Homo sapiens: one gene and its partners. The protein of the gene in region 3 interacts with the protein of the main gene of each other region in a biochemical or structural test. Each region holds a gene or a part of one and is shown on either strand. Other genes may lie near its edges. The genes, in order: WDR48, DMC1, RAD51AP1 and NUCKS1.

What was found.
Region 1: the proteins of RAD51AP1 (region 3) and WDR48 form a complex in vitro, tested with the Homo sapiens proteins (one study listed by BioGRID).
Region 2: the proteins of RAD51AP1 (region 3) and DMC1 form a complex in vitro, tested with the Homo sapiens proteins (2 studies listed by BioGRID and IntAct).
Region 4: the proteins of RAD51AP1 (region 3) and NUCKS1 form a complex in vitro, tested with the Homo sapiens proteins (one study listed by BioGRID).

Annotation. Positions count from the first base shown.
Region 1 is NC_000003.12:39,055,016-39,063,066, reverse strand, and holds part of WDR48 (WD repeat-containing protein 48), read right to left. Parts: intron 18-8,051; coding exon 1-17. UniProt on the Homo sapiens protein: Regulator of deubiquitinating complexes, which acts as a strong activator of USP1, USP12 and USP46. Enhances the USP1-mediated deubiquitination of FANCD2; USP1 being almost inactive by itself.
Region 2 is NC_000022.11:38,517,921-38,525,707, reverse strand, and holds the end of DMC1 (meiotic recombination protein DMC1/LIM15 homolog), read left to right. Parts: intron 1-3,983; coding exon 3,984-4,100; intron 4,101-5,618; coding exon 5,619-5,688; 3' UTR 5,689-6,760; downstream 6,761-7,787. UniProt on the Homo sapiens protein: Participates in meiotic recombination, specifically in homologous strand assimilation, which is required for the resolution of meiotic double-strand breaks.
Region 3 is NC_000012.12:4,541,108-4,549,158, forward strand, and holds part of RAD51AP1 (RAD51-associated protein 1), read left to right. Parts: intron 1-776; coding exon 777-826; intron 827-2,655; coding exon 2,656-2,797; exon of another isoform or gene 2,798-2,804; intron 2,805-4,111; exon of another isoform or gene 4,112-4,158; coding exon of another isoform or gene 4,159-4,205; intron 4,206-4,674; coding exon of another isoform or gene 4,675-4,725; intron 4,726-5,201; coding exon 5,202-5,311; intron 5,312-6,984; coding exon 6,985-7,071; intron 7,072-7,579; coding exon 7,580-7,729; intron 7,730-8,051. UniProt on the Homo sapiens protein: Structure-specific DNA-binding protein involved in DNA repair by promoting RAD51-mediated homologous recombination.
Region 4 is NC_000001.11:205,711,759-205,719,670, reverse strand, and holds the end of NUCKS1 (nuclear ubiquitous casein and cyclin-dependent kinase substrate 1), read left to right. Parts: coding exon 1-144; intron 145-1,191; coding exon 1,192-1,391; 3' UTR 1,392-6,849; downstream 6,850-7,912.

The DNA of each region.
Region 1 (8,051 bases), on a different chromosome or scaffold from region 3:
CGAATAACATAGGAAACCTGACAAATGTGTCAACATATGCTTTTTATAAAGTACAAGCCATGCAGTAATAAAATATAGTCTACTAGTGGCCAATCTGAAACAGAAAATCCCATGTTTTCCAATATGTACTTTTTCAACCCAATACAAATTTAAATTTTACTCCTTAAAGACTAAAGGGCTGAAGAGAAGGATGGTATCAATGATAGCCTAGTCCAACATGAGTAAGTTGCTAAACTACTATAACTGCTTCCTGACTGGACTCCTTTCCCAGTCTTTAGTCCATTTTTCACAAAGCAGCTAGAGTAATTATTTAAAAATCTATCTCAGCTCTGCTCAAAAACCTCCAGTTGCTGACTACTAGACTCATGATTGGATGTAAATTCCTTAACATGGTCTCAAGTACCCTGTTTGTCTTTCTGGCCACTCATCTCTGCTCCAGGTTCTGGTGCATTGTGCCTCCAGACCATCACACATGCTGGTCCTCTCTGTTTGGAAGCTCTTCCTCCGACCTGTCTGGCTAACTCTTGTTGCAGCCTTCAGGTTTCCATTTAAACAATACTTCCTTTAGAAGGCCTTCCCTGACTTGCCAAGCAAAATGAGGTTTTGAGCTCCTATCACATACTAAACTTTTTCTTCAGGGCATTTTCCCCTACTTTGTTACTGTTGGTGACCTCTGTCTGTTCCTTGTGAAAACAGGGGATCAACTGAAAACAATTACACCTAAGAAAAAGTCAATAAGCTGGCTGGCAGCCAGAAGTAAAACTTTCTAATGTAATGAAATAAACAGTTAAAAATTAACTCAAGATGGACTAAAGACTTAAATGTTAAGACTTAAAACCATAAAAACCCTAGAAGAAAACCTAGGCAATACAATTCAGGACACAGGCATGGGCAAAGACTTCATGACTAAAACACCAAAAGCAATGGCAACAAAAGCCAAAATTGACAAATGAGATCTAATTAAACTAAAGAGCTTATGCACAGCAAAAGAAACTATCATCAGAGTGAACAGGCAACCTACAGAATGGGAGAAAATTTTTGCAATCTACCCATCTGACAAAGGGCTAATATACAGAATCTACAAAGAACTTAAACAAATGTACAACAACAACAACAACAAAAACAACCCCATCAAAAAGTGGGCAAAGGATATGAACAGACACTTCTCAAAAGAAGACATTTCTGCAGCAGACACAAGAAAAAATGCTCATCATCACTGGCCATCAGAGAAATGCAAATCAAAACCACAATGAGATACCATCTCATGCCAGTTAGAGTGGCAGTCATTAAAAAGTCAGGAAACAACAGATGCTGGAGAGGATGTGGAGAAATAGGAATGCTTTTACACTGTTGGTGGGAGTGTAAAGTAGTTCAACCACTGTGGAAGACAGTGTGGCGATTCCTCAAGAATCTACAACTAGAAATACCATTTGACCCGGCCATCCCATTACTGAGTATATACCCAAAGGATTATAAATCATTCTACTATAAAGAAACATGCCCACGTATGTTTATTGCAGCACTATTCACAATAGCAAAGACTTGGAACCAACCCAAATGTCCATCAATGATAGACTGAATTAAGAAAATGTGGCACATATACACCATGGAATACTATGCAGCCATAAAAAAGGATGAGTTCATGTCCTTTGCAGGGACATGGATGAAGCCAGAAACCATCATTCTCAGCAAACTATCACAAGGACAGAAAACCAAACACCACATGTTCTCACTCGTAAGTGGGAGCTGAACAATGAGAACACATGGACACAGGGCAGGGAACATCACACACTGGGGCATGTTGGGGGGTAGGGGGCTGGGGGAGGGATAGCATTAGGAGAAATACCTAATGTAAATAACAAGTTGATGGGTGCAACAAACCAACATGGCACATGTATACTTATGTAACAAACCTGCACGTTGTGCACATGTACCCTAGAACTTGAAGTATAATAATTAAAAAAAATTATCTCAAGTACCTATAGTGATTCTATTAGGAACAATTATACCCTTTCTCCACATCTTAAACCAAAAACGAATTTTTCTATGAATTAAAGACTGAAATTTAATAACCATAAAAATAATTTTTGTTTTTATTTTTTGAGAGAATCTTGCTCTGTCACCCAGGCTGGAAAGCAGTGGCCCGATCTTGGCTTACTACATCCTCTACCTCCCAGGTTCAAGCAATTCTCGTGCCTCAGCCTCCTGAGTAGCTGGGATTACAGGCATATGCCACTGTGCCCAGCTGATTTTTGCATTTTTAGTAGAGATGGTGGTTTCACCATGTTGGCCAGGCTGGGTTTCAAGTGGTCCACCCGCCTCAGCCTCCCAAAGTGCTGGGATTACAGGCGTGAGCCACTGCACCTGGCCAGCATAAAAATAATTTTTAAAAGACAGGTGAATATTTACATAGTCCCTTGCCAGAGAAAACTCTTCCAACATGCCAAGAAAGATGGTAATCTTTACGAAGGAAAAGAGCAATGGTGATCTGGCCAAATACAAGTCAAAACCTTTTCTATGTACAAGAATGTTCACAGCATTGTGGCATTCACAATAATGTTACAAAAGTGGAAACAACCCAAATATCCATCAATGGACAAAACAAATAAAATGTGATGTGTGTGTGTGCATATATATATATATATATGCACACACACACACTGTACTGACACATGCTATAACGTGGATGAACCTTGAAAATGTGCTAAGTGAAAGAAGCCACATATTTTACAAAAGGCCACATATTTTATGACTCTATTTATATATAATGTCTAGGATAGACAAATCCACACAGAAAGTAGATTAGTAATTGCCAGGAGATTGAAGGAGGGAAAAATGAAAAACGGGGAGTAATTGCTAATGAACATAGAGTAATTAAACATTCTGGAGTTAGGTGACCAATAAACAACTTTCCGAATATACAAAAAAATCACTGAATTGTACACTTTGAAAGGGTGCACTTTATGGTATGTGAATTTTATCACAATGTTATTATTTTCTTAAACCTTCTGAATGTCAAAAAGTAACACGAGCAAGACTAAGAGAATAATGAAATAAATATGAAAGAAAGTTTACTCTTAACAAGATTCCTTATAAAATAAGAAAAAGTCAAATTTACCAACAGAAAGAGGGACAGTTACAAAAAGGGACTTTTTAAAAAAGAAATGGCCAAAAACCCCATAAATAATCAAAGACAAAATTAATATGAGATTATTTTACCTATAATACAAGAATTTTTTAAAATAACTGCCATTTTTGTTTCCCCTGAGGATAAATAAACACTTTCTGACAAAAGTTTTAAACTCTTTGAAATGTTCTTTAAAATTCAATTTCCAGAAATTTGTCCTTTAAAAAGGGCCAGGGCTGCAGACACAAATAGCTACAAGGATGTTGTTTTAACCCAGTCTTTTGGATGCAATTAACTGTAACTGAGATCTACTCAAACCAGCTTTTGTTTGTTTGTTTGTTTTTTAAAGGAGACTTCAACACAAGGATATCTTAACAGAGCCCAAGGTCAGGAAATACAGTCATCATTTATAAGAGGCATTTAAAAAATCAAATCATGACACTTCTCTGCTGAAACTTTCCAATGGCTTTTCACAAAATTTAAAGTTCAAACTCCTCAAATGCTTAGTTCTGACCCTGCATCCCCCACTCATTTCAAACTGACTGCCCCCAGCTTCTTTTATGACAGTCATTCCAAACTCCTTTCTGTTACCGTAAACACATCAAGCTCTTTCCCATCCCAGTACCTTCTCATTTACTGTTGCCAGTGTCATGAAGATTCACCACCCCTCGAATCCCTATAGGAATACTCTTTCTCCAGCTTTCATCTTGTCTAACTCACCCTTACTCTTCAGATCTTAGGAGAAAGGTCTCCTTGGAAAGGCCTTTCTGATCTCATTCTCCTCAGGGTTATGACCCTATCTATCTTACATTACTTATTTAACAGTTCTTACCACATTCTGTATTTTTTTTTTTTTTTTTTTTTTGAGACGGAGTCTCACTGTATCGCCCAGGCTGGAGTGCAGTGGTGCGATCTTGGCTCACTGCAACCTCTGCTGCCCAGGTTCAAGCAATTCTCCCAACTCAGGCTCCCGAGTAGCTTAGATTACAGGTGCCTGCTATGGCGCCCAGCTAATTTTTGTATTTTTAGTAGAGACAGGGTTTCGCCATCTTGGCCAGGCTGGTCTTAAACTCCTGACCTTCTGATCCACCCACCTTGGCCTCCCAAAATGCTGGGATTACAGGTGTGAGCCACCGCGCCCAGCCACATTTATATTTTTTGGTGTATCTTCTCCATTAGAATAATAGCTCCAAGAAGGCAAGGGACTTGTCTGCCTTGTTCCTTCCACCCCTGTGCCCCCATTATAGTGTCTGGCATATAAAAGACATACGTATCATTGCATGAATTGGCTTTCCAAAGCCACCAGGAACCAAGCTAGCTTCAATGTCAACTTCAGCCTCTCTCAATCTCTCTTTCTCTGGGGTTCCAGGGCTGCTTACCTAGCTCACATTTCCTTTAACTGAGACTGTGCAGCATATCTAAATCTTGATATCCAGACTTCTGGGAGATTATCTGACTGGTTAAGGCAAGAGTGAAAGAATAACCTGAATGTCAGAATTCTCATTCTAGGTGGAAAGTAATTACTGTTAAAACCAGTCTGGGCCAACCTCTTCAACGGTATTTCCTAAAGACGTGTGCTTTAAAATGCAAAAGAATTAGAAGTATCCTAGTTGGATAAATTCTAGCACGCACATCTGTAAAACACAACACTATTCAATCACTTAAAATGTTGATGTAGGCCAGGTGTGGTGGCTCATGCCTGTAATCTCTGTGCTTTAGGAGGCTGAGGTGGGAAGACTGCTTGAGCCCAGGAGCTTGAGGCTGCAGTGAGCTATGATGGCACCACTGTACTACAACCTGGGCAACAGCATGAGAGCCCTGTTTCTAAAGAATAAGAAAGAGTTGATGGAGGTCTAGACTGATAAACATGGGCGGAAAGCCATGATATATTTTTAGTGAAATATGTGTGGTCCAACACAACAATGTACAATAGTCATTATTATAAAAATGTTTCAAAATATTAAATATTTCAGAACAAATACACAAGTTTTGAAGACTATACATATATAAAAATAACCAGGGGCCAGGCGCAGTGGCTCATGCCTGTAATCCCAGCTTTGGGAGGCCAAGGCGGGCAGATCACGAGGTCAGGAGATCAAGACCATCCTGGCCAACATGGTGAAACCCCGTCTCTACTAAAAATACAAAAATTAGACGGGTGTGGTGGTGCGCACCTGTAGTCCCAGCTAGTCAGGAGGCTGAGGCAGGAGAATCACTTGAACCCAGGAAGCAGAGGTTGCAGTGAGCCATGACGGTGCCACTGCACTCCAGCCTTAAGACAGAGTGAGACAATGTCTCAAAAAAATAAAAATAAAAATAAAATAAAATAACCAGCAGTTATTTCTGAATGATGGGATTATGGTGATTTTTCACTCATTCATGTCTCTTTCATGTGTTCTGAATGTTTTACAAACAACATGTATTACTTAGTTTTTAAAATTTGATCATTTGTTATCCAAGTAATTCCTGCTTGTATTTAGAAAATCAAATAGTAATGACTGTAATGAAAAACAGTCTCTCTACTGTCTGGATAAGACTCCCACACCTAGTCTTCATCCCTAAAGGTAACTAATTGCAACTCAGTTGTTGCTACTGGATAGTTAACTGCATTTCTCTAAATATTGTGCTTATCCTATAACTTTTTGGCTCATCCATTTTAGACATTATCGATTTACTCATGCTACTGTAGATTAGGATGTAGTTCTGAAACTACCCTCAATATCTCCTCCCTCTACTCTTCTAATATAGATACATCCCTATTTTTAATTGAACAAATAATCCGTGCTATATTGTTGTGACTGTAAGGCTATCTACTAAGTACTATATTATGAATACATTTCCTTCCTCAAAGAGCTTTTTGTTTTCCCTAGAGTTTTAATTTTTCCTTCTTCAATGGTTTTCTCCACTTTAATTTCAATTTTAATTGCTGTACCACAGAACTCACCCCCACCCCTTTATTTTCTCAGAAGGCTTCCCCCTCCAAACCCTCCTTCTTCTCATTACAATCTAGGCTGACTGCCCTCTAGATCTGCTGGCACAGCTGTCACCTTTGGTGTTTTCCTTTACTGCTTTTCTGGGTTACAGCCATTGTTTCCTGAATTCTAATGCCTCCTTCTTTCTTTGTTCACTCCATAGTTTTGCTGAAATACATCCCCAATACCTTAAGAAAGTAATATAAGAAAAGGCACATGGGTTGGCAACTTAGTCCTTGCATGCCTGAAAAGGTCTTTCCTCCACATTTACACTTGATTTAGCAATTCTCTCAGCTCTTGAAAGCATTGCTGTAAGTTCCTCTAGCATCCAATGTTGCCACTGATTTCAATGCCATTCTGTTTCATACAGCTTTAAAGGGATCCTATTTTCATTCTTTCCTCCACTCCCTCGTCATCTCCTTCCCTAAGCTTTCAGGATTTTCTCTTTTTCCTTGGTGTTGTGACATTTCTTGTTTGTTTTTTCTATCATTAGTTTTTCTGTGCATTTAGAAAGCCCCTTCGATCTAGAAATTTGCGGCACTTAAGCTCCGGGAAATTTTCTTGTATCCATTATTAATCATCATCTCTGTTTTCTTTGCTCTTTCTTGAACTCAAATGAGTCAGATACTGGAACTTTCAAACTGATCCCTCATCTTTTATGCATTCTGTATTATCTATCTTTGTCCTTTCATTTATTTTTGTAACACTTCCTTTACTATTTTATAACTGGAGGTTTTTTCAAAGCAAATTATAGTATGATGGAAAAAAAATCAAAGCAATATCTTCAATAAGGAAATGGCTAGACAAATTATGGTACATCCATTCTATGTGGTCATTAAAGAACGAAAACTATATATGCTGATATGTTTCAAGACATGTCACCTTAAAAACTTGTTATCTGCATCCATTAAAGTACAGAGAAAAAATTTAAAATGTCTGGCTATAGAAAAATAGAGGAAAATGGATTTAATTCTTTCAACGAATATTAACTAGGCACCCACTTGTTGCCTGGCACTATTCTAAATGCTGAGGATACGGTAGTGAGCACAAAAGTCCTCTTGGCATTTAGCTGGGGAAAGAGCTTAACTAGAAGTGGCAGCAAGTTAAGCGAAGTATTTTTTTTCCCCAAGCACTGTGAAGCACTGAAGGAAGAGGCCATAACAGGAGGAAAAATGGAGGCACAGAGAGCCAATCAACAGACTCAGGTTGCTGGAAAATCATACCACCAAGGGACTGCTAAGGATGGAAAAGACTTGCTTTGATATCCTGGTTACCAGAGAAAATGCTACATCATGTATCTGAATTCACATATTTGATTATGTTTCTGACAGTCACAAATCCATCCCTCTTCCCTCGTATCTCTAGTTTTCCTAGAAGTTGAAGATGGTAGGACATGGACTCATTTAAAATTATGTCTACAATTAATATGCAGTATGTTTGGACCCCTCTCCACTGATTTTAAGTATCATTTTATTTTATTTTTGAGATGGAGTCTCGCTCTGTCACCCAGGCTGGAGTGCACTGGTACAATCTCGGCCCACTGCAACCTCCGCCTCCTGGGTTCAAGCGATTCCCCTGTCTCAGCCTCCCAAGTACCTGGGATTACAGGCATGCGCCACCATGCCGGCAATTTTTATATTTTTAGTAGAGACGGGATTTCGCCATGTTGGCCAGGCTGGTCTCGAACTCCTGACCTCAAGTGATCTGCCCACCTTGGCCTCCCAAAGTGCTGGGATTACAGGCATGAGCCACCACGCCTGGCCTCCACTGATTATTTAGCAATATTTTTAAGTCTCAAGGGTTTGTCTTGGCCTACAACTTGACAAGGAGCTCAGGGCTACTGTCTCGTGGTCTGAGACAGTCAGGAGACAAAGTATATTTACTCCAAGTACCCATGTATGCTTTTTCCAAGATGAGAAGTTTTCTTTTTGATGTATAAGAGCAAATAATGT
Region 2 (7,787 bases), on a different chromosome or scaffold from region 3:
CAGCCTCCCAAAGGGCTGGGATTACAGGTGTGAGCCACTCTGCCCAGCCTCATTCCTATATGTTTTCTTTGCCCTTTTGCAAATGCTATAATTTATTTCCCCATTTGGGTGATTCAAAATCATCTCCTTTTGGAAATAATGTTCTTAACATTCAGGCTCTTCACCTACAGTAATGACAAGCAATTGTCTCTATTCTTTTTTGCACATTGGGTACCACACTAGTAACAGCAAACAATAGTTTGCTAAGAAAAAAAAATCATGGCTATACATCTAGAAGCTCTAGCTTCCCAGTCTTGTTTAGGTTATCTATAATGGCATGGGAGGCATGGTGCTTCAACTGGGGGAATCTATCTTCTTTTATATTTGCCTCTGTCAGAACACTCTTCAAAAGTTCCCTGAATTACAGTTTTGAAGATATGACACAAATCTGTGTCCAAGAAGGACCTAGACCAGGGAGTCCCAAATTGTCATCTCTGTATTCATTCTGCAATATTTATGGAGTACCCTGTATATTATAGGCACTTTTCCAGGCGCTGGAGTTTCAAAGATGAACAGATATTTAGAGTATAGTTGGGGAATAAGACCCATACATTTAAAATTACCATGTAGTGTGCTTAATTAATTAATTAATTTATTTATTTATTTTGAGACGTAGTCTGGCTCTTGTTGCCCAGGCTGGAGTGCAATGGTGCGATCTCAGCTCACCACAACCTCTGCCTCCCAGGTTCAAGCGATTCTCCTGCCTCCGCCTCCTGAGTAGCTGGGATTACGGGCATGTGCCACCACACCCGGCTAATTTTGTATTTTTAGTAGAGACGGGGTTTCTCCATGTTGGTCAGGCTGATCTTGAACCCCTGACCTCAGGTGATCCGCCCGCCTCGGCCTCCCAAAGTGCTACTGCGCCCACCTGTAGTGTGCTTTAATAAAAGAATACAGACTGTTGGAAAGCACAGAGGGGGCCAGTTTTCTACTGTTTCAGGGAACCAGGCAAGGGTTCCTAGAAGGGAGGACACTTGAAGGCTGTGTAGGAGCTGAATGAGCAGACACGGTGGGGAAAGGAGCTTTCATTTCAGAGGGAGTAATGTGTGCAAAGTCATCAAGGATAAGAAGACTTTCTGAAATCAGAAAAAAGGAAGTTTTAGAGGGAAGGAGAAAACATGAGTACAACTGTAGTTAAGTATATAGGTGGTGGACAGAAAGAAGAAGTTGAGGAAGTGTCCTCCTGAGAGCCCTTATTTTCTTTTTTATTTATTAGTTTTATTTTATTTTATTTTGTTTTATTTTATTTTTTTGAGACGGAATCTCGCTCTGTCGCCTGGGCTGGAGGGCCACCGGTGGCGCGATCAGCTCACTGCAACCTCTGCCTCCTGGGTTCAAGTGATTCTTCTGCCTCAGCTTCCTGAGTAGCTGGGACTGCAGGTGCACGCCACCACACCCAGCTAATTTTTGTATTTTTAGTAGAGACAAGGTTTCACCATATTGGCCAGGCTGGTCTCAAACTCCTGACCTTGCAATCTGCCTGCCTCAGCCTCCCAAAGTGCTGGGATTACAGGCATGAGCCACTGTGCCCGGCCAAGCCCTTATTTTCTTTATAAAGTAGCAGGCAATGTCATCCAAGGTGAGGGGATAAGAATGGAAAAGGGGGCTTAAGGAGACTACTGAAGGTGAGGCAGTAAAGCCAACCATGCTCACACAGGAGAATGAGCAGCATTGAGAGACTAGCTGGGAGAAGCAGTAGCATTGTGTTCAGACTTCTCTCTGCCCATTTAGCTAACCTTGACTATCCGTTCTTAGCTCCTTTTGATAGAAATTTCCAACTGGTCTCAATTTTATTTTTTCTTAACTTCTGTGAAAACACCAATCTTTTTGCAGTCCAATATTCCCCTTGGAATTGTTGTAGCATAAATATCTTAAGCTGAAAAAACTATTTTTTTTTTTCTGAGACAGAGTCCCACTCTGTCACCCAGGCTAGAGTACAGTGGCGCAATCTCAGCTCACTGCAGCCTCCGCCTTCCGAGTTCAAGCGATTCTCCTGCCTCAGCCTCCCACGTAGCTGAAAAAACAATTTTGAACACCCACTGTGTGCCTGGTTGTGCAGAACTAAACACAATATAGTCTGCCCTTAAGGAGCTTAGTGATAGAGAATAAGAGAGGAATTGAGAAGGAATACAATAAGTAAATAAATAATAGTACTAAAGGCAGAACATGAAAAGTACATTACAGAAGCATAAATACAGTGTTTGCAGGCTCGGAGTTCATAGCTCAGTTGAGAATATCCTCAGGGTCTCAAGCAGCCCATCTATATAGAACATAAGATTATTTTAAAACCATGAAGAACCACCTGTAAGGTAGGGTGACCTGAAAAGTTAAGTGGCATCGATCTGTAAGCATTATAGAGACAACTCACTTATCTAGCTATTTTATCCAACTGAGAAGGCTTTATTGCTTTACTACCATGTCAGGTGCCTGGCAAAGCAACCCAGCTTTCTGACTTCTTAACTGCCGCCGTTAGTCTCAACTGTCTGGCTACTACTTTCTTGATAGTGGTTCACTCCAAAACTAACTCTTTGTCCTTGTTCCTATGTTGGACCTGCTGCATTTGCATTTAAAACATTTTTTTAAAAATGTTTTTAAGAGGGCCTCACTATGGTGCCCAGGCTAGCCTCTGAATTCCTGGGCTCAAGTGGTCCTCCTGCTTCAGCCTCTCAAGTAGCTGGGACTACAGATATGTGCCATAGTGTCCAGTTTCTACTGAATCTTAATCCTATTCAGCACCAACCAGGGGTCTTCTGGTCCTAACCTCTGAGCCATTTAATCAAGTAGCAGTTTATCTCAGCAAACTCCTTTACCAAAGAGCTTCTTATCCCGACCAACCTACAGTCTAAATATATTTAACCTCATGCCAATCAGCTACATCCTTGCTATACCAAGCCTGAAGCTTAGAGTAAAACCAGAATCATGAACACTTTAATGGAGCAAGCACAACTTGAATTGACTTGTAACTATATTCTTTCAGAACTGAAGCTATTATTCTATATCATAGTTTATTTTGATCAAGTATAACCTTTAGTTTGTGCTGTTCCCTTATTGATGATTTCTAAGCCCACATTTTCTTTTTTTCTTTCTGTTTTTGTTTGTTTGTTTTTTGAGAAGGAGTCTTATTCTGTTGCCCAGGCTGGAATGCAGTGGCTGATCTCAGCTAACTGCAGCCTCCACCTCTTGGGTTCAAACAATTCTCTTGCCTCAGCCTCCAGAGTAGCTGGGATTACAAGCATCAGGCACACGCCACCACACCTGGCTAATTTTTGTATTTTTAGTAGAGATGGGTTTTTGCCATGTTGGCCAGGCTAGTCTCGAACTTCTGACCTCAGTGATCCACCCACCTCGACCTCCCAAAGTGCTGGGATTACAGGCACGAGCCACCGAGCCCAGCCAGTAATCTCATTTTTTAAAGTCAGGCTGGGCACAGTGGCTCGTGCTTGTAACCCCAGCACTTTGGGAGGCCCAGGCGGGCAGATCATGAGGTCAGGAGTTCGAGACCAGCCTGGCCAACACAGTGAAACCTCATCTCTACTAAAAATACAAAAAATTAGCTGGGCGTGGTGGTGGGCACCTGTAATCCCAGCTACCTGGGAGGCTGAGACAGGAGAATCGCTTGAACCCAGGAGGCAGAGGTTGCAGTGAGTGAGATCACACCACTGCACTCCAGCCTGGGCGACACAGCTAGACTCCATCTCAAAAAAAAAAAGTCAAACAAAATATAAACTATTTATCATAGGAATCTCAAAAGCCTAGACTAGATGGGGTATATAGCAGCTCCAAAACTCACCTCACTCCTTAGTTTATGAACAAGCCTCTGCTTGTTTAGAATATACACTTATTCCAACTCCTGACATCCACCACAGAAAGATTGCCTTGTAATTGCAGATATTGCCATATATAGTCCATATGATGAAACCTGAAAGAGTATTTTATTAATTCAGCTTTCAGGCAGATCCCAAAAAACCCATTGGGGGACACATTCTGGCTCATGCTTCAACAACAAGAATAAGCTTGCGAAAGGGAAGAGGAGAGCTCAGAATTGCCAAGATTTATGACAGGTAAATTTTTTTTTATTTTGTGTGTGTGTGTGTGTGTGTGTGTGTGTGTGTGTGTGTGTGTGTGTGTGTAGAGACGGGGTTTTGCCATGTTGCCCGAGCTGGTCTCAAACTCCTAGGCTCAAGCAATCCTCCCACCTTGGGCTCCCAAAGTGCTGGGACTATAGGTGTGAGCCACCACAAGGCTGTAATTATTACTGCCAGATGCTGTGTGTTTGAATTTCTTTCTAAAAAATTATTCAATTTATTGGGAAGTCCCTACTGTTACTAGGTACTAGGGATTGAGGGATTCTATTGACACATAGACTTGGTCCCTGACCTTTCAAAGCATACACCTAGATAATGAAATCATCAATTCCAATTAAATTGTGTTAAATACAAGGTAAGTATCAAGTATGGGAACATATCCTCCTTTCTTTTTGCCAGGTTAACTCTATTTGTTTTTCAGGTTTCAGTTTAAACATCACTTTCTCAGGGAACCTTTCCCTAACCCTTACAGTCTAGGCTACTCAGTATATTATACCCTATATTCTTTCTCAGCACTTTACGTGTTTAATTAAGAATTACAGATTTTGGCCCGGCACAGTGGCTCACACCTGTAATCCTAGCACTTTTGGGAGGCCGAGGTGGGCGGATCACCTGAGGCCAGAAGTTTGAGACTAGCCGAGATCGCGCCACTGCACTCCAGCCCGGGCGACAGAGTGAGACTCCGTCTCAAAAAAAAAAAACAAAAACAAAAAACAAAAAAGAATTGGATAACCTGGGAGGATGTGCTAGACAACCTATGTTTCCATGGAAGGTACTCAGTAATCTTTTAATTTATTTCAAAGTATTTTACAGTTTGCTCCTACATTAGTCTAGTCATAAGAAAGGTGCATACCCCTATAGAATCAGATAAACCTCTAAGGGGCTGCTATACAATGCCTGACACTATACTAAAAGAACATCCAGTTGGCCAGGCGCAGTGGCTCACGCCTGTAATCCCAGTACTTTGGGAGGCCGAGGCAGGCGGATCACCTGAGGTCAGGAGTTCAAGACCAGCCTGGCCAACATGGTGAAACCCCGTCTCTACTAAAAATACAAAAATTAGCCGGGCGTGGTGGCAGGCACCTGTAATCCCAGCTACTCAGGAGGCTGAGGCAGGAGAATGGCTTGAACCCAGGAGGCAGAGGTTGCAGTGAGACGAGATCTCACCATTGCCTGGGGGACAAGAGCAAGACTTCGCCAAAAAAAAAAAATTAAAATAAATAAATGAAAGAACATCCAGTTATCCTTTCACCTGTTTCCAAGTTTGGAGTAATTTTTCTTGACATTCAGAACTTTATATATAGAAGTTGCTCAATAAATGTTTGTGAGGGTTAATAATACTTGTGGGTAAGTTCTGTAGGCCACATTTGGTTGTACCAACTCTGAGATGTCTCTGGAGATTCAGACTGATGGGCACATAATGCCTGTGACATGAATATAGTATTTATAGAAATAGAGCTTTTTATAAACTTCTGTTCCCTTGTATTCTGTTAGTCCTGAGATGCCTGAAAATGAAGCCACCTTCGCAATAACTGCTGGAGGAATTGGGGATGCCAAGGAGTAGGTGGTGAATTGATGCAAATTGCTTCTTAGTGCTTATTAGGAGCTGAAGAAATGGAAAAGCAGTCTCCAATTTCACATCTTGAAATAGAGGTTTTTTCCCACATGTTACTAAAGAAAAGTCAGCAAAGAGATTTAAATCTTATATTTATCTTAAAAGTCCCTGATTTATGATAACTATACATTGTATGTAAATTCAGGGATATGTATATGTATGTTTGTGTGTGTGTGTGTTTGTGTGTGTATACCTGACATATATAGTAGATATATATACCTATTGAAATTCTCTCACTCTGTGTATGTATATATACCTATGGAAAACTAGTTGTTGGGAAAGGAGTACGTGATTCCCTCCCTTTCACTTTTCAAAGTGAGCCACTAAACAGAAAGTCTAAGAGTTCAGAAATGTCCCATTCTCCTAAGGACTTTCCCTTCACCATTTTTCTAGGGTATAGTGCCACTGACTTACATAGCTAGATGTTTTTCCACAAGAGGATTTAAGGGAGGAATGTTTATAGGACACACACACAAAAGCTCTTTCTATTTATAATATCAAACTGCATATTCACCTTTATAGCAACAGAAAACAGACATTAAATTAAGCCAAATTTTAAATCATTTGACTTTGACAAGCAGAAATTACTTTTAAAAAATGTATTTATGGCTGGGCGTGGTGGCTCACACCTGTAATCCCAGCACTTTGGGAGGCCGAGGCAGGTGGATCACTTGAGGTCAGGAGTTCAAGACCAGCCTGGCCAACATGGAGAAACCCCATCTCTACTAAAAATACAAAAATTAGCCAAGTGCAGTGGCATGTGCTTGTAATCCCAGCTACTCTGGAGGCTGAGGCAGGAGAATTGCTTGAACCCAGGAGGCAGAGATTGCGGTGAGCCAAGATGGCACCACTGCACTCCAGCCTAGGTGACAGAGTGAGACTCCGTCTCAAAAAAAAAAAAAAAACTTTTTTAAAATGTTAAAATTAATTTAAATGTAAAATTTCTGAATACTAATCTTAGAAATGTGTAAAAGATATTATTTTGATTGTTAAACAAATAAAATCCTGTTTTCAAAATGCATGTATGGTGAAAATATGTAAAAATTAATATACTAATGACAATATACAATGAAGAGCTTTATAGACTTCAATCTTTATAGACTTTAATGTTACATCAACTTACATGAAAATTCCAGGGCTGGGCGTGGTGGCTCACACCTATAATCCCAGCTCTTTGGGAGGCCAAGGCGAGTGAATTGCTTGAGCCCAGGAGTTTGAAGACCAGCCTGGGCAATATGGCAAAACCCCGTCTCTACAAAAATACAAAAAAATTAGCCAGGCGTGCTGGTGTGTGCCTGAGGTCCCAGCTACTCAGGAAGCTGAAGTGGGAGGATTGCTGGAGCCCAGGAGGTGGAGGTTGCATTGAGCCAAGATAGAGCCACTGCACTCCAGCCTGGGTCACAGAGTGAGACTCTGTCTCAAAAAAAAAAAGAAGGAAAGAGAAGAAAATTCAAGTATTCGAAGTACCATTTGTTACAAAAGGTATTTGATTATTCATGAAATTATTCACTCACTAATTATTATTAATGCTAAGCGCTAAAGAATAAACAAGGAAAATGTGGTTCCTACACATAAAGCATGTGTACACTAGTTAAGAGAAAAGACTAATATTTAGGAAAACAAGAGAGCAAATGATTATATAATTAATTCATAAGCAGTGTAATCTTGGATTGACCCTTAAAGAAAAAGTAAAATTCTGCTGGGTGCGGTAGCTCACGCCAGTAATCCCAGCACTTTGAGAGGCCGAGGTGGGTGGATCACTTGAGGTCAGGAATTCGAGACCAGCCTGGCCAACACAGTGAAACCCCATCTCTACTAAAAATATGAAATTAACTGGGCGCGATGACGCACGTCTGTAATCCCAGCTACTCAGGAGGCTGAGGCAGGAAAATCTCATGAACCCAGGAGGCGGAGGTTGCAGTGAGCTGAGATCATGCCACTGCACTCCAGCCTGGGTGACAGAGCGAGACTCCGTCTCAAAAAAAAAAAAAAAAGTAAAATTCCAAAAATGGGAGGGGAAAGGTTAAGCTGAGAGACTGCAAAGGTAT
Region 3 (8,051 bases):
ATTTGAAATGCTCCAAAATTTGAAACTTTTGCAGTACCTACATGGCACTCAAAGGAAATGTTCATTGGAGCACTTCAGATTTTAGATTTTCAGATTTGGGATGCTCAGCTGGTAAGTATATAATGCAGATATTCCAAAATCTGAAAAAATCCAAAATTCAAAACATTTCTGGTTCCAAGCATTTCAGATAAGGGATACTCATCTCAGGTGGTAGGAACAAGGTCACTCACCATTTTTAAGTGTCCGTTGCATAAAAATGTTATTTGGTATGGTGGAGAGATTGAAAAGAAAGTAGCTTTTAGTGTCAAGAAATTTATAATCTAGTAAGGAAGATAGAATGCACACACAAAACAGAAGAACACGTACAACGGGAACTTACAAATGCCCAACAGCAATTAAACAGTATAGCAATTATAAATGTTAATTATGTAGATTATTCTTTGTAAGTTACCTGAATTTTTTTCCTTTATCATATAATTGAAAAGCCAACAATACCCAGGTATATCAGGTATAGTTGTAACTATTTTAGCTAATGATAAATCCCCGCGGTAAAATGCAAATCATGTTTTAGAGTTAAATATTCTTACTTGAACCCAAACACATTTTCATTTATTGAAACACATTTCATTTAACACATTTTTATTTATTTCGTTTATTCATTATTTATTAATAAATGAATAATATTAAATAAATAAATAATATTCATTAATAGCCTTAAGTAATAGTGGTGAGAAATTGACATTTGTGTTAATGAAAAAATTCTGTTTTGGTCATAGACATAAGAAACCAGTCAATTACTCACAGTTTGACCACTCTGACAGTGATGGTAAGTAAAGCTTCTTATTTTTGTTCTAAAGATTTGGAAACTCATTTCCTCGGAATTTATATGACATATATAGCTCAAACACTGACTAAATTGCCCAAATGCATATGAGGTAGGTCTGGAAAGATAGTTTTCTAATCATTTGGGATAATTATGCTGATAATTATACTGATAAAAATTATGTTAGTAGGTGATAAATGAACAGGCCAGGTGAAAAGTCTCTTTAGATCTAAACTACTCTAAAGTCCATAGTTGCAACATAGAGGTTTGTCTCCTATTCCATCCCTGAAGAAGGAAAACACTGTCTTTTTGAGATACAAAGATGTTACAGCATATTATATAAAATCCCTATTAATTGTACTATAAAACAAGACCTTGAAGAAAGGTTAGGCTTATGTTATGCCTTTTAAGCATTAGTCATATGTTTACTTGACTCTGCTATGATTGAAAAGTTTGAGGAACATTGCATTAGATTATGTTATATGTTGAAGTGGATTTAATATTTCTTTCTTAGACCACTAGAGTTTTCTGTAAGTCAAATATTTAGTAAGTCTTCGGTTTGAAGGAATCTGTTTTTGCCTTGAGCACAGCCTTAACTGTATCTACCACTTGGGAAAAAGAGTGTAGAGTATAACATCTAGCTTTTTTTTTTTTTTTGTCATCAGTCTGTCATCAGATACTTATAAATTGCCAGGTGTGTAGTAGTAGGTGGGGGGAGTCCTAAGTTATCTTATTTTTACATGGGGAAGCATATAAGAGACAACAAGTATTAGTGCTTGCTGAGTATGTGATGAAGACTGCATAGACCCTGAAAGTATGCATATATGTGTTGTATACATGTGGAAAAGCCACAGCAGTAGTTTTACGTTGACAGTCAAGAGTAGAACTACAACAGTTCAGAGGATTGGTAAGACAGAAAAACCTGTGAGAAACAGTAATGGACTGGAAAAGAACATCCTTTTGCAAGAAAATAAGAAGTTACTTTGGTAGGATCTTAGGAAGATCATTATGGTAATGGAAAGAGAAAATACTACTATTGTAAAAATCCTCAAATAGGAGCTACTTTCTCTTCCCCCCATAATGCTTATTTCCTCTAGCATGGTTAATGTACTAGGAATAGGTAATGGGCTTTTTTTTCTCTTTTTTTTGAGACGGAGTCTCACTCTTGCACCTAGGCTAGAGTGCAACAGCGCGATCTTGGCTCACTGCAACCTCTGCCTCCCAGGTTCAAGCGATTCTCCCACCTCACCTCCTGAGTAGCTGGGATTATAGGTGTCCGCCACCATGCCTGGCTAATTTTTGTATTTTTTAGTAGAGACAGGGTTTCACCACTTTGGCCAGGCTGGTCTTGAACTCGTGACTTCAGGTGATCTGCCCGCCTTGGCCTCCCAAAGTGCTGGGATTACAAGTGTGAGCCACTGTGCCTGGCCCAAGTAATGGGCTTTGAAAAAAGATATTTGGCTACATTGTGAAGTTCCCATAAAAATAATTTATTTCCACTTTTCAATGTGATTAAATTCTACCAATTTTTCTAATGGTTTTACAGGTTTTTAATCATTTTTTCTTTGACACTTATATGCTGTCTTAATTGCTTTTGCAGTTTTTAGTGAATTGGTTTTTGATAGACTGATATTTTTAAATATAAAGGGCACAAAAACAAAAGTCGAAATAGATAAATGAGAGTAAAGATAAACAAAATACTAACAATGATTTTTAAATTGTGGAAATTAAACAATTTGCCTAGCCTATAAAAACTTGAACACACATGGTAATGATTTTCATTTATGAAGAAAATAATATTTTTCTTTTGGTTTTAATTCACACATGAATAGATGATTTTGTTTCTGCAACTGTACCTTTAAACAAGAAATCCAGAACAGCACCAAAGGAGTTAAAACAAGATAAACCAAAACCTAACTTGAACAATCTCCGGAAAGAAGAAATCCCAGTACAAGAGAAAACCCCTAAAAAAAGGTGAGAGGTAAGACATGCAGTAAATATATGACATTAGATGTGTTAATTTTAAAGAGACACAGATTCGAACCCTTGATTTAAATTAGAACTTGGGCAGAGTCATAGGTCTTATTTTACTAGGTGCAGTCAGAAAACAGGACGTACTATTTTTTTCTGGCTTTCTGACTTAAAGAAATTCACAAACATTCAAGGAAGTATCATTAAATATTAAGACAATAATGATTGTAGAATTCAGAAGTTATGACTGGTTTTGACAGGACCCAGCACTTATCTCTGAATTCCTCAAATCATACGAGACTACTTTGTTAAAAATGACATTAGATGACTTAAGATGATTAAGACACAAGATGACTTAATATGAGGACAGTTTTTAAAATATAAAACCATGTATTTTCTTGCAGAAAAAGATGTCTTCTCCCCATGTTGTTAAGATTTATCCAGCAGTGAGAAGTTCCCATAGTTTCTAGACTAACCGTGGAATTCCATTAGATAGTATCAAGAGGCAGAAAGGAGTGAAGGAAGTCCTTAGAGACCCAAAACTTGCAGTATGGAGAAGAGATGGGCGGAAGGGGAATATTAACAAATGGAACATGGCATATATAATGTTTTACTGCCACAAGTTTCTCTATGAAAAGTGAGTTAGCCTGGAGAAACTTACCTCATGTCATGCTCTTTTTTGCTTTTCTTTTTTTTGGTTTTTGTTTGTGAGTTTCTTGTATTACATTTTAAATATATAGAAAAAGGAACCCACACGTGGGAGAAAATATTTGTAAATCAGATAACTGATAAGGGACTGTATCCAGAGTATACACAGAACTCGTAAAACTCAACAGTAAAAAGACTAACAACACAATTTAAAATGTGCAAAAGATTTCAATAGACTTTCTCCAGAGAAGATAAACAAATAACCAATAAACACATGAAAAGATGCTCAATATCATTAGCTGTGAGGGCAATGCAAATCAAAATCAGAATGAGATAATACTTCACACCCACTAGATGACTTAATACAAAAGACAAGGAATGTGGAGAAATTTGAACCCTCATATATTGCTGGTGGGAAAGTAAAATGGTGCAGCTAAATTGGAAAATGGTTTAGCAGTTCCTCAAAATGTTAAACAGAGTTATTACATGACCCAGCCTATGTATGTATCCAAGAGAAATGAAAACATATGCCCACACAAAAACCCATACATGAATGTTCACAGCAACATTATTCATAATAGCTAAAAAAAAATGGAGGCAATCTAAATGTCTATCTGCTAATGAATGGATAAGTAAAATGTGGTTTCCACAAAATGGAATATTTTTCAGCCATAGAAAGAAATGACAACTGATAACTGATATATACTGCAATATGGATGAACCTTGGAAACATCATTCTGAGTGAAAGAAGCCAGATATACAGGTCACATATTACATGATTTCATTTGCATGAAATGTCCAGAATAGGCAAATCCATAGAAACGGAAAGCAGATTAATGGTTGCTAGGAGGGGAGAGGGGTAAACAGGAAGTGAATGCTAATGGGTATGGGGTTTCTTTTTGGGGTAATAAAGATGTTCTGAAATTAGGTAGTGTTGGTGGTTTTACAGCTCTGTGAATGTACTAAAAACTGCTGAATTGTTTACTTTAAAAGGTAAACTTTATGATATGTGAATTATATCTTAAGAAAACTGTTATTCTAAAAAAATAAATTCTTTAAGGTACATCTCAGTGCTTCTTCCTTTATGTAACTTTTCCTTATCTGTCTTTGACGTTTTCTTCCTCTTATACTCCATAGCACTTTTGAGCAGCTTGAATAGGACTTTATAGTCTGCCTTTTATAGGATAATTATTAGCATGTCTTGTTTCCCCACCCTCCTCCTTTAATTGCAGACTCCCTGAAGGTACTTTTAGTATTCCAGCTAGTGCAGTGCCTTGTACAAAGTAAGTGCTTGGTAAAATATTTGTTAAAGTCTGGATTGGGAGGAAGAGATGTAAAAAAATGATAATAATTTTAATTTAATGTAAGAGCTATAAAATCTGCTAAAGGGGAGTGGGTGAGGTCAAGGAAGAGTTTTAAGTGGAAGTGATGTTTGAACCAAGTCTGTTTTGGGTTGAGTAGGGTGTTTCCCACCTGGACACAGCTGGTAGTAAGGTGACACATTACAATGAAAGGGAACAGTCATTGCAAAGAGGCACATGGTCCTCCTATTTCAAACCTCTTATTCTGTATGTAACATGATACTGTGACATTTTAGGAGTCTTATCTTATCATCAAAGGTCTATTAATGATGATTGTTTAAAAACATTTTTGCGAAGTTAGCAACTCTTGAATAGTAATTTGGAGAAATCTCAAACTTTGCTCTTTAGTTGAGATTGATATTTTGAAGAACTCATTATTACTTGTGTATCTATTTTAGGATGGCTTTAGATGACAAGCTCTACCAGAGAGACTTAGAAGTTGCACTAGCTTTATCAGTGAAGGAACTTCCAACAGTCACCACTAATGTGCAGAACTCTCAAGATAAAAGTAACTTTATTTTCTGTATATTTAGCTTTAAAACCTTCTTAATGCTTTTGTGATTATTTGTTTGGGTGGGCCTTCACAGAGGAAACAGGTAAAATGTGAATACTTTGCACTATAAATAGACCCATTTGCAGAGAATACGATTGGATTTAGTTCTTAATTCAGCTGCCTAAATCTCATACAAACAGACATACATCTCTGCTTAACACCCAGAATAAGCTTGAGGGCACGGACTGTGAGCCTCAGTGTTCGAATTATATGTTGTTGTACAGTGAACATTTAATTTCTTCATCAAATGATTTGATCTGTACAGTCCTAACAATCCATCTCCATTTTTTCCAGATCAGTTAAACATACCCTAATTATGGTAATTTTTATTACTTACAAAGGTCAAAGGTATTAATTTGGTTAGCAAGTTCAGTAGACTTAAGAGAATGGCTTTTGGATTTCTCTGTTGATTTTCTCCTTTGATTTTTCTGGCAATATATTAATATTCTAGAGAGGCAGAAATCATTATTCCTGAAAAAGATACTCTACTGCTAAAATGCTTTTTGGCTTAAAGTTTTTATGTTGGGGGATATTTTAGCTTATTATCTTATTTAGGGGTATACATGGAGCTTTTTTCTTTGTTTCTTAAATCAGTACTGCCTCCTTATTTATTTATTTATTTGAGACAGGGTCTCTCTCTGTCATCCAGGCAGGAATACAGTGGCATGATCATGGCTCAATACAACCTTGACCTCCTAGGCTCAAGCAGTCCTCCTGCCTCAGCCTCCTGAGTAGCCGGGACTACAGGCATGTGCCGCCATGCCTGGCTAATTTTTTATTTTGTAGAGAGGGGTCTCACTATGTTGCGCATGCTGCCCTCAAACTCCCAGCCTCAAGCAATCCTCCTGCCTCAGCCTCCCAAAGTGCTGGGATTACAGGCGAGAGCCACCTTATCTGGCTGCCTCCTCTTTAAAAAGAAATGAAAGTTTGATTAGGAAGACTTTTAGTAACCAAGAATCAAAGAAACATCAAAAGAGAATTATCATGAATTACATTTAAAATGGAGGCACTGAAATTCATCTCTCTCTTTTAAGACATTGTAGAATGTATAAGGGGAGTTCCTTAGAAGTATTAATATTATACCATTTCTTATTAAATAATGCACCTTATAGCATTGGAATTTAATAGTACCAATTATTATGTCTTAAAGTCCTCTTAGAATGCTTTGGGTCATTTTAAGGTTATTATAACGATTGGAGAGTTCTTAACGTTAGTAAAAGCATGGATTTGCCTACACAGAATTGATAGTTTATTGACCATTTCCTGTATATTAGGCACAATAATAAGCAATTCCTATGTGAGATCCACATTTGGTCTTCTGTAATACCACTGGGTAAGACACTATTTTTATCTCCACATTATAGATGAGGAAATTCAGTCTTAGGATAAGCAACTTGCCCATGGTCATATAGCCAGTTTACATGGTAGAGCCTGAATTTAAACATGTTAGATTTCAGAGCCCAGACTTCTAACCATATGTTAACCTCTCTGAATAAAATTATTGTGCCAGTTGGAGTTTGGGATCATTTATTTATATCTAAATGCTATTACATTTTAGTACTAATTTTCCTATATCTAGACATTGATTAAGATATATCTGAATTTTCTTTCTTATTCCTTATATTTAGGCATTGAAAAACATGGCAGTAGTAAAATAGAAACAATGAATAAGTCTCCTCATATCTCTAATTGCAGTGTAGCCAGTGATTATTTAGGTAAGTTTTTTATATTAATAATTTTTCTCATCAACAATGCTGTTTCTCTGACTTTTGTTTAAATTGCTGAAATTGTGGCTAGAAGCAAGTTCTTTAAATTTGTCAAGACTCTCTTGATGTCATGGCCTTTATTTCTTTGTGTTTTAGTCTCATTCTGTCGTACTGCAGACACACATTCTTCCCTGAAGGGTCATAACTACCCGTGGCTTCTAGTTGGAGCAACTGACCTTTGAAGAAAGGGGCTGCATATTCCCAATTCTAGTTTGAAAATTTTGGGGGAAAGATTATCTCTGTTTGGGTCTTGGATTTATCCCTAAAACTAGAGGTGTTCCCAGGGCACTGATGTACCATGGTTGACCCAGATTGGGCTAATAGTCTATTACTGGAAGCATGGGAGGGATGAACCTGGGCAAATAAAAACAATAGCTGTAATAGAGTCTGGTCTGCAGTTCTTGAAATATCAGTTGTCACAGAAAGTTTTCCATTGATTTTTATGCCTCTCCTGAAGATTTGGATAAGATTACTGTGGAAGATGATGTTGGTGGTGTTCAAGGGAAAAGAAAAGCAGCATCTAAAGCTGCAGCACAGCAGAGGAAGATTCTTCTGGAAGGCAGTGATGGTGATAGTGCTAATGACACTGAACCAGACTTTGCACCTGGTAGGTTTTATTCTACTTCGAAATTAATTCTATGGGAATTCAGTCAAAAAAGTTCTTGGAAGCTATTAATTGTGCAAAGCACTGTGTTAAACCTTTGGGGTGTGCAAACTTCAGGGACACACAGAACAGTTCAATTCAGTGATAGCATTTGGGGAAAAAGTTTTTTCTACGAGTTAACCTTTAAGCTATGCCTTGAAAAATGAGTAGCGTTTCAACAAACTAAAGGTGTAAAGTAGCATTTCTGACTAACAGAAAGGCATTACCTGTGGAATAGACAAATGCTCTATTTGTCTCTAACTGAGGCTTGCTGGGATGAACATGG
Region 4 (7,912 bases), on a different chromosome or scaffold from region 3:
CCGGCAGCGATGAAGATTTCCTAATGGAAGATGATGACGATAGTGACTATGGCAGTTCGAAAAAGAAAAACAAAAAGATGGTTAAGAAGTCCAAACCTGAAAGAAAAGAAAAGAAAATGCCCAAACCCAGACTAAAGGCTACAGGTAATTTCTGCAGAAGTGAAATTAAATTTACTGCTTTAAAAATTTTGAGAATCATTATTTTCAATACAGAAATTCCTCATTAGGATTTGGCATTGGCCTGATGTTTAGCAGGAATACAAGAAATCTAAAAGGGTCTTGTATTCTGCAACTGGAAGTATCTCTTATTAATAAAGACACTAGCCTGTTTAAGAGTCTAGTGGGCTTAGCCATGTTCTTCAACTACTGCCAGTACTTGAGCAAGATTTCAGAATGATCTATTTGTTTCAGACACAGTGGTAGAAACACTGTGTCATCATAGTTGTTACTGCTCTTTTTTCCTCACTGGTATCACAGTCTCAGCAGCCAGCAAAGACTTAATTGTGAAAATGCACAAACCTAGAGTAATACGTTTAAGTTCCACGTTCTGAACTCTACCCCATCCTCTGTGCTATCAGAATAAAACCACACTTGATGACATGAGTTGATTTTTTTCTGAGCCCTAATGGTTTCTCCTCGTTGGAGCTAGTTTGTTAACTAAATCAGAAATCAATTTGCTTTTTGTGTAGGTGGTTTTATTCTGTTAGGTAGAACTAGTCATTGTTAAACTTCTGTTTATCACTTCCTACTGTTAGGAATGATGGAACTATCAAATGTTATTTGATGGCTTTAGTTTCTGATCAGATTAATTCTTTTCCTTCCGTCTTTTTGACCTGCTTTTTATAAACAACTTTTATCATAAACAACTGTTAGTTTACCAAGCAATTAAGGATGTTGTGCATATTCTATAGCATGGTGCTTCTTCTTTACAGGTATTACTGCTAACATCATAGAGTGTTGGTAAAAACTGATGGGAAATACTGTAGCATAGTGTAGTAACTTATGACCAGTTTAGAAACTGAGATAGATTTACCTAGGGATATATGTGCTCCCTTGTGCCCACCTTGGTTTTTAGTAAGTTGCATATTGTCTTTATAGATTTTATTCTTACAGATTGTTGTATTTTGTAGCTGACTTTTATTAAAGACATTTTTTTCTCTTCCCTTCCCCAAATTATTTTTCTATTTTCAGTGACGCCAAGTCCAGTGAAAGGCAAAGGGAAAGTGGGTCGCCCCACAGCTTCAAAGGCATCAAAGGAAAAGACTCCTTCTCCCAAAGAAGAAGATGAGGAACCGGAAAGCCCGCCAGAAAAGAAAACATCTACAAGCCCCCCACCCGAGAAATCTGGGGATGAAGGGTCTGAAGATGAAGCCCCTTCTGGGGAGGATTAAAAGTGATGATGGTCTGGGGAGAGATTTTATTAAAAAAAAAAAGAAAAAAAAAGAAAAAAGAGGGAGGAAAAAAAAGAACCTACTTAAGATAGAACATGGTTTTGGCTATGGCTTGACTCATGGGCTTTCAGTGCTTTTTTCCATTTGTTGAAAGTAACATTTCTCTCTCTCTCTCTTTTTTTTTTTTTTTTTTTAAAGCAAACCATTGTATGTGTAAGTGTTTAAGTTACCTTTTTGTCTATTGGTCTCTTTGCCAGCCCTCCCCTTTCCCAATGAAAGCCATGTCAAATTAATCACTGGATTGACTGCTTCATCTTTTTATTTTTAATGAAAGGTGTACCACGGTTGTAAAGCAATAAGATTTGAGATGAACACTATTGAAACTTCGCTTTTTGCTAAAAAATAGCAAGTTGAATAGTAATCAAAAAACATAGAAAGATTTTAGTTCAAAATGATTGCTCCTTTCTCTACCTGGACTTTTAAAAAATCAATTGTCATCTAATATGAGTTTATTTGTCTATAGACACAAGTATCAATGTCTAAAAAAAATCATGACTTTAAACTTCCACCGATGAGGCAGGTAGGAGATAAAGATGAATTCTGAACTGTTACTAAAAGTACTCATTTTTTACCTTGTAGGGAGGGTGGGCAATGGGGTTACCTGACCTTATTTGAGGGTATGGGCTTTCTTTTTTATTTCATCACTTGTTATCTCAAAGAGACTCGGAGCCAGTGATCCTTTTATCCTGCTACAGTCTTTAGGGAGCTAAAAAAAAAAAAAAAGCAGGGGCTGCCAAAACTCTTGATTTCATATTTCCTTCTCTAAATATATATGTATCCTGTTTTTTGGATAAAATTTTACCAAGAATCCAAAAAAAAAAAAACCCTAGAATTTAATCAACAAGATCAGTCTACAGGTCACAGTGGATTTCTTTTCAAACTGACAATGTTTAGGTTTTAAGCAAATAAAGTTCCAGTTAATGTGAAACTCAGTCACAAAGAGTTGAGATTTTTCCTTTATGAAATAGAATTGACATTCTTTTATGCTATAAATGTGCATTCAGGTCCCATTAACCATGCTCTGCTTTTATTTGGGGATAGAACATTTTCTTTTTCATATCCCGATCTTCCCATTTCTTCATAGAAATGTGATAAGAAGTACATCCCTGTGATCCTGCTGCTTCGTAGAGCACCACTGCACACCCTACCCCGAGTGCCAACCACCTCTGCTATAGGACACTATTTTCCTGGCCCTATTCTTCACTTACTTCCCATCCTGTCCTTGACTAGGAATATGTTAAATGCTGCTCCCATACAATTCAGTTAGCTCTTGTCTTTTTATTTGGTCCAACCCCTGCTTTACTGCTCATGCTGCTTAAAGCAGGAGGGACTAGAGAAACAAGGCATTTTAGGAGGCCTGTGTGCAGTTGAAAACCGACTTTTACACGCCTTATAAAAGCAGTCAGGAGATAGATCCGTAGGTTTGATCCTTCACATCTAATACCAGGCGCTAATGGGAACAAGGTTTAAAGGGTCCTGGTATGCTAATAAATTGAAAAATTAGTGAAATTTAAACTTCTGCCTTTTTTTCCTGCCTTTTAATCTAGATTTGCTTCCTCAATATCCTACTTTGTGGTTTACTAGGAACATGCTTACTCTGATCTTTTTTTAAAAAACACACAGTGGCAGAGTCATTTCACTATTGCACTGTGTGTTAAAGAATGAATAAGGAGTTTTCAGTTACATGGCCAAAAATACAGGACTTGAACATAAATAGCAGTTGGATCATTCTCTTTCATGACGGTTAAATTCAGAGGTGTGAACTTTGTAATGAGGGTGTTAAAGATTAATCTATTTGCCTAAATGGGTTTGTTCAGGTATCCATTTTTAACAAAGAAGTTTGTGTTCATATAGTAAAAGACCTATCAGTGTTTCCACCATGCACTTCTATTTTTTAGGAGTTTATAATTTTAAGTCTTACATTCCTAGTAACATTTGGGCTTTTCTTAGGTTATGTTTCGTGAAGATTTGGGGGGAGGGCTCTTTTAAAACTTCAGCCTCAGTTGTTTAACAGTCTCTTTAATATATTAATCTGCACTAACATCTCTGTGATATATGCACATATTTTAGAGGTAATCATGTCTTCTAGATTACTTGTGTGCATTTGATTGGGCTTCTTGTTTAGGGTCCCTTTTAAAATTAATTCATTAGATTGAAAAATGTATTCTATATTTCTGATAGACTGGACAGAAGGATCTGTGTCCCCAAGTGAGACAGGCTCTGAATAACCTTTGTTTTCTCCACTTTTTATTGATGATTTAAAACACTCTAGTCTTCCCCTCAAATCATGCATGCAAATAGGAGGACAGTGGTGGTGACTCAACTGGATACAGGTGCTCAATAGTCAGGCTTGATAGTGATGTCAGGACGCATTACAAGCTGTAAGCCGATACTGACTGGCCATTGGCACCATCCTTGACTAACCTTCCTCTTTTTCTCTAGTGTGCCTATGGTGAAATGGCAATAGCATTCACTGTCGTATTTTGCAGTGCTCAGGAAGTGGGACGTTAACTTTGAAGGTGCTTGTTTGTATTAGCTCTGCTAGGTTTACCTCTACAACGTAGATTTCAGCAGCTATGCTGACTGACACTACATTCTAGTTCTTAAGATTTTTTTTCCAGATCCCCCCTTCCCCAGCTAGACATACGTAGCATACTTTCATCTTATTCAGTCTTTCTGTAACCTGCTGCTGCTTTTAGTCCTCCTCACCTCAGATCGGAATCAATGGAGTGGGCCCAGAGGATACATTTTAATTCCAGTAATGGTAGGTAGATTTGTCCTGCTTTCTAAAACATCTCCTCATTTCATATTTCCACTCCATATTGATTCCATAAGGGAAAATTAATGGGTGTTTCCTCCTTTAGGGAGGTAATGCAAAGAGTGTGGACATCTTCTAATCTTGAGGAACAGTAGTTGATTTCCCTTGAAGGAGCTTACATATTGACTGTTTTCACAATAACCTGTTTGCCCCAGTTCAATCCTCATTTTAATACTTAATTTGGTACTGGCTCAAATAGCATTTTCTTACAGATAACAAATCAAGAGTGAAATTTGAGGTTATACTCCAGTAAAGTTTTTAACACTTGTGAATATGGTCAGCTAGACTAAACTTGACTCTTTTTTTTAATGGCTTTTTTATCTGTGAACATTCAGATAAGTGGATTTTCAAGTACTGGTTGGGGATGGGAATCGTGCTTTTCTTTAAACTTCAGTTTACGAGATGCTTTGAGAGCGTTAGGCAAAAGCAGAAATAAATATCAGGAGCAACGGGGAAAGCTTTATAAAAGATCATGGTGGCCACTGTTGCAGCTTTGAAGAATGAGTGCTGGCTTGAACAGTTCTTTGCCTGCATCATTGGTAGCTGCACTGAAAGGAAAAAACTTTCACCTTAAGAATTTGAAAAGGAAGAAACCTGGGCTCTGGTCTTCATGGCATTTAGACTGAGATGCTTAAACAGAACAGAAGTAATACGCATTTCCTGCCATAGGATAGGGAAAATGTAACAAGCTGGTTGCTCTTGAGGTTAGAAAATTGTCTGTTTCTCTGTGGATGAAGCTGGATTTACTTGAAAATGGAGAGTTGGCTTATTGTTTGAATATTGGGACATCAAGCTATCTATAGCCAAGTTTCAGTCGCAACCAGTTTTCCCTTTGTCTGGGGTAAATTCGATACAAAATGATTCTTTTTGAATCCTGAATCCATAAATTACACTTTTTTTTTTCAAATTCACAAAATTCACAGTGGTGCTGACTGTGTAATAACCACTATTGGGAAACATCCCGTAAACCTGCCTGTTGCCATGCCAATGGAGTGACTGAACTGGTGACATCTGTTTGAGCATGCTTTGTGTGGCTGGTAGAATGCCACCGTTGTGCATACACTTTGTACATCAGGGGTGAAGGGAGGGTTTTCTAGATTATTGGGGGAGGGTAAAATTGGGATTTTTTTGTTGTTCCTTTTTTGATGGGGTGTGGGGGTATAGTACTCAGCTTATGCCCTAAAATAACATGTATAAAAACCCCTGAAGTATTGTGTGGGTGTGTACGTGTGAGTGTGTGTTTGTATACATCTGGCAATTAAAGCTTTGTCTTCTGGAACTTAGTGAATTCTTTTCTCTTTTTCCTCCAGAAGTATTTGTTACAAGATTTGTAAATAAGAGCTCTACTTAGTTTGTTTACCATGAACATGTTGCAGCAAACCTTATGCATCTAATTCCTACAAGGTTAAAGAAAGGCTTTTAGACTTGCCAGGTTAAGCAACAGCCAAGTTCTCAGTAATTGTTTGCCTTGATTTATCTTTTAGACTTCATTTTGCCAGCTCTAAAACTCCCAGTCTTCCTTGATTTTAGTCCTTAATCTTTTATGTTCTGAGCAGGAAGGGTAAAAGACAGGAACCTGCTTCACTGTATTAACTAGTCCATGGGCTGAGACCGGGGCATCTCTTTTCTTCATACTGCAATGTTGCTAGATACATGATCAGACACCAGAGGGTTGGGCATTCTTGCAATACCTTAACAGTGCTGAAATCTGCAGCATGGTACTAAGGAAGTTAAAGTTTGAATGTAACCACTTTATTTAAAAGGTTTTTTTCTTTAATTTAAATGAAATGGGGTTGAAGTGAACATGATTTTGTTGACCATGTTCGTGAATTACAGATGCAACATGCATTGGTAGAATCGTGTGATGGTCTTTTGTGATACTTAATTTTTACATATCCCAGTCTCTGTATGTATCTGCATAGACAAAGAAAAAACAAACTCCTGCTTTGCTTTTATTGAAGGGTTTCCAGGACTGCGTGTCTGCTCCTGAGCTCTGTTTTAAGTATGTGTATCCTTTGCTTGTATTTTGTATTAAAAAAATAAGAAAAAGAAGCCTTTATTGTTGAGCATGTTGGCATTGTCCCCTTTATTTTTTTCTCTTTTTGGGACATATGAAGCAAGTTATTCTTTTTCTGTATCTTTTTTTCTTTTGTAAACTTTTTTTTTGTTTTGTTTAAAAATGGCTTTATAAAAGGGCTTTTATAACCCAGATGTGTGCTCTGTGTACTTCTTGTAATACCTTAAAGCAAACACACTAACTTACACAGCTTTGTTAATCAGCTCCCAGTTCAGCCTGACTTTGTGGGAACTTATTTCCCTAATAAATTATTTAGAAACTTTAACAGTGACCATCCCTGTTGTTGGTAAAAGATAAACATGTCTTGGTTCAAAAGTTAATACCTCAGGATGGAATCAAGAAGCAGTAGACTTACCAGTTTGATTAATTAAGGGAGCACTGGACTGGGTGCGTAAGGATTCTTAATTAGCATTTTTTCTCATGTTTACATCCAAGGTTATGAAGTGTTGTGGAAAGCAAAGTTTAACAATCATATATAATAAAAGATAATGTTTATACTCACAGAACACACTTGCATTCAATTCCAAATACCCATAAGAACTACGCTGAATTTTGAATTAAAGATTACTTGTTAGGTGGACAATGTGGTACAAGATCCCTCTTTAGAACTGGGCTGATATTGTAGCTATTAGGGCTTTTTTCTTTTTAACTTTTCCTCTTGTTTACATACTTGCCTTGTCAGCCAAATACTATAATTGAAATGCAAATTTGGCTTTGAAATTAAATGCTTTGTGCATCCTGTTATCCGTCAGTGACTAGCTAACTTTTTAAATTTCTTTCTTTCTTTTTTTTTTTTTTTTTTTTGAGATGGAGTCTTGCTCTTGTCGCCCAGGCTGGAGTGCAATGACATGATCTCAGCTCACTGCAAACTCCACCTCCCGGGTTCAAGTGATTCTCCTGCCTCAGCCTCCCAAGTAGCTGGGATTACAGGCATACACCACCACACCTGGCTAATTTTTGTATTTTTAGTACAGACGGGGTTTCACTATGTTGGCCAGGCTGGTCTTGAACTCCTGATCTCAAGTGATCTGCCCACCTCGGCCTCCCAAAGTTCTAGGATTATAGGCGTGAGCCACCCCTCCCGGCCATTTTATTCTTTTTCGGAGATATGAGAGTCTTGCTATGTTGCCTGGGCTGGTCTCAAATTCCTGGACTCAAGGGATCCTCCTGCTTCAGCTCCCCCAGTAGCTCAGATTACAGGTGCAGGCACACTGCCCACATACATTTATTTCTTAATATAATGAGTTGTCTCAGGTTAAAGTTGAATTTGGATGAGCATTAACCATCTACTTTTCCTCATAATCCTTAAGTATTTTATGGATAACATAGACAATTTTATGTTTCAGGACAGTGCTGAAGAAATGCAGTCTGATTTAAAGGATTTCAAAAACCAACAAGTGGATAAACAGATGAAGAGAGGTTAAAACACACTTGGAGCTACCTAGACTCCTATCCATGAACATCGGTATACAGTACTACACTGTAGTTGTGCAACACATATTACCTCATTTAATTTTTCCAACAACTGTGAGATCGGCAAGTGTTTGTTCTTCCAATATTGTAAAG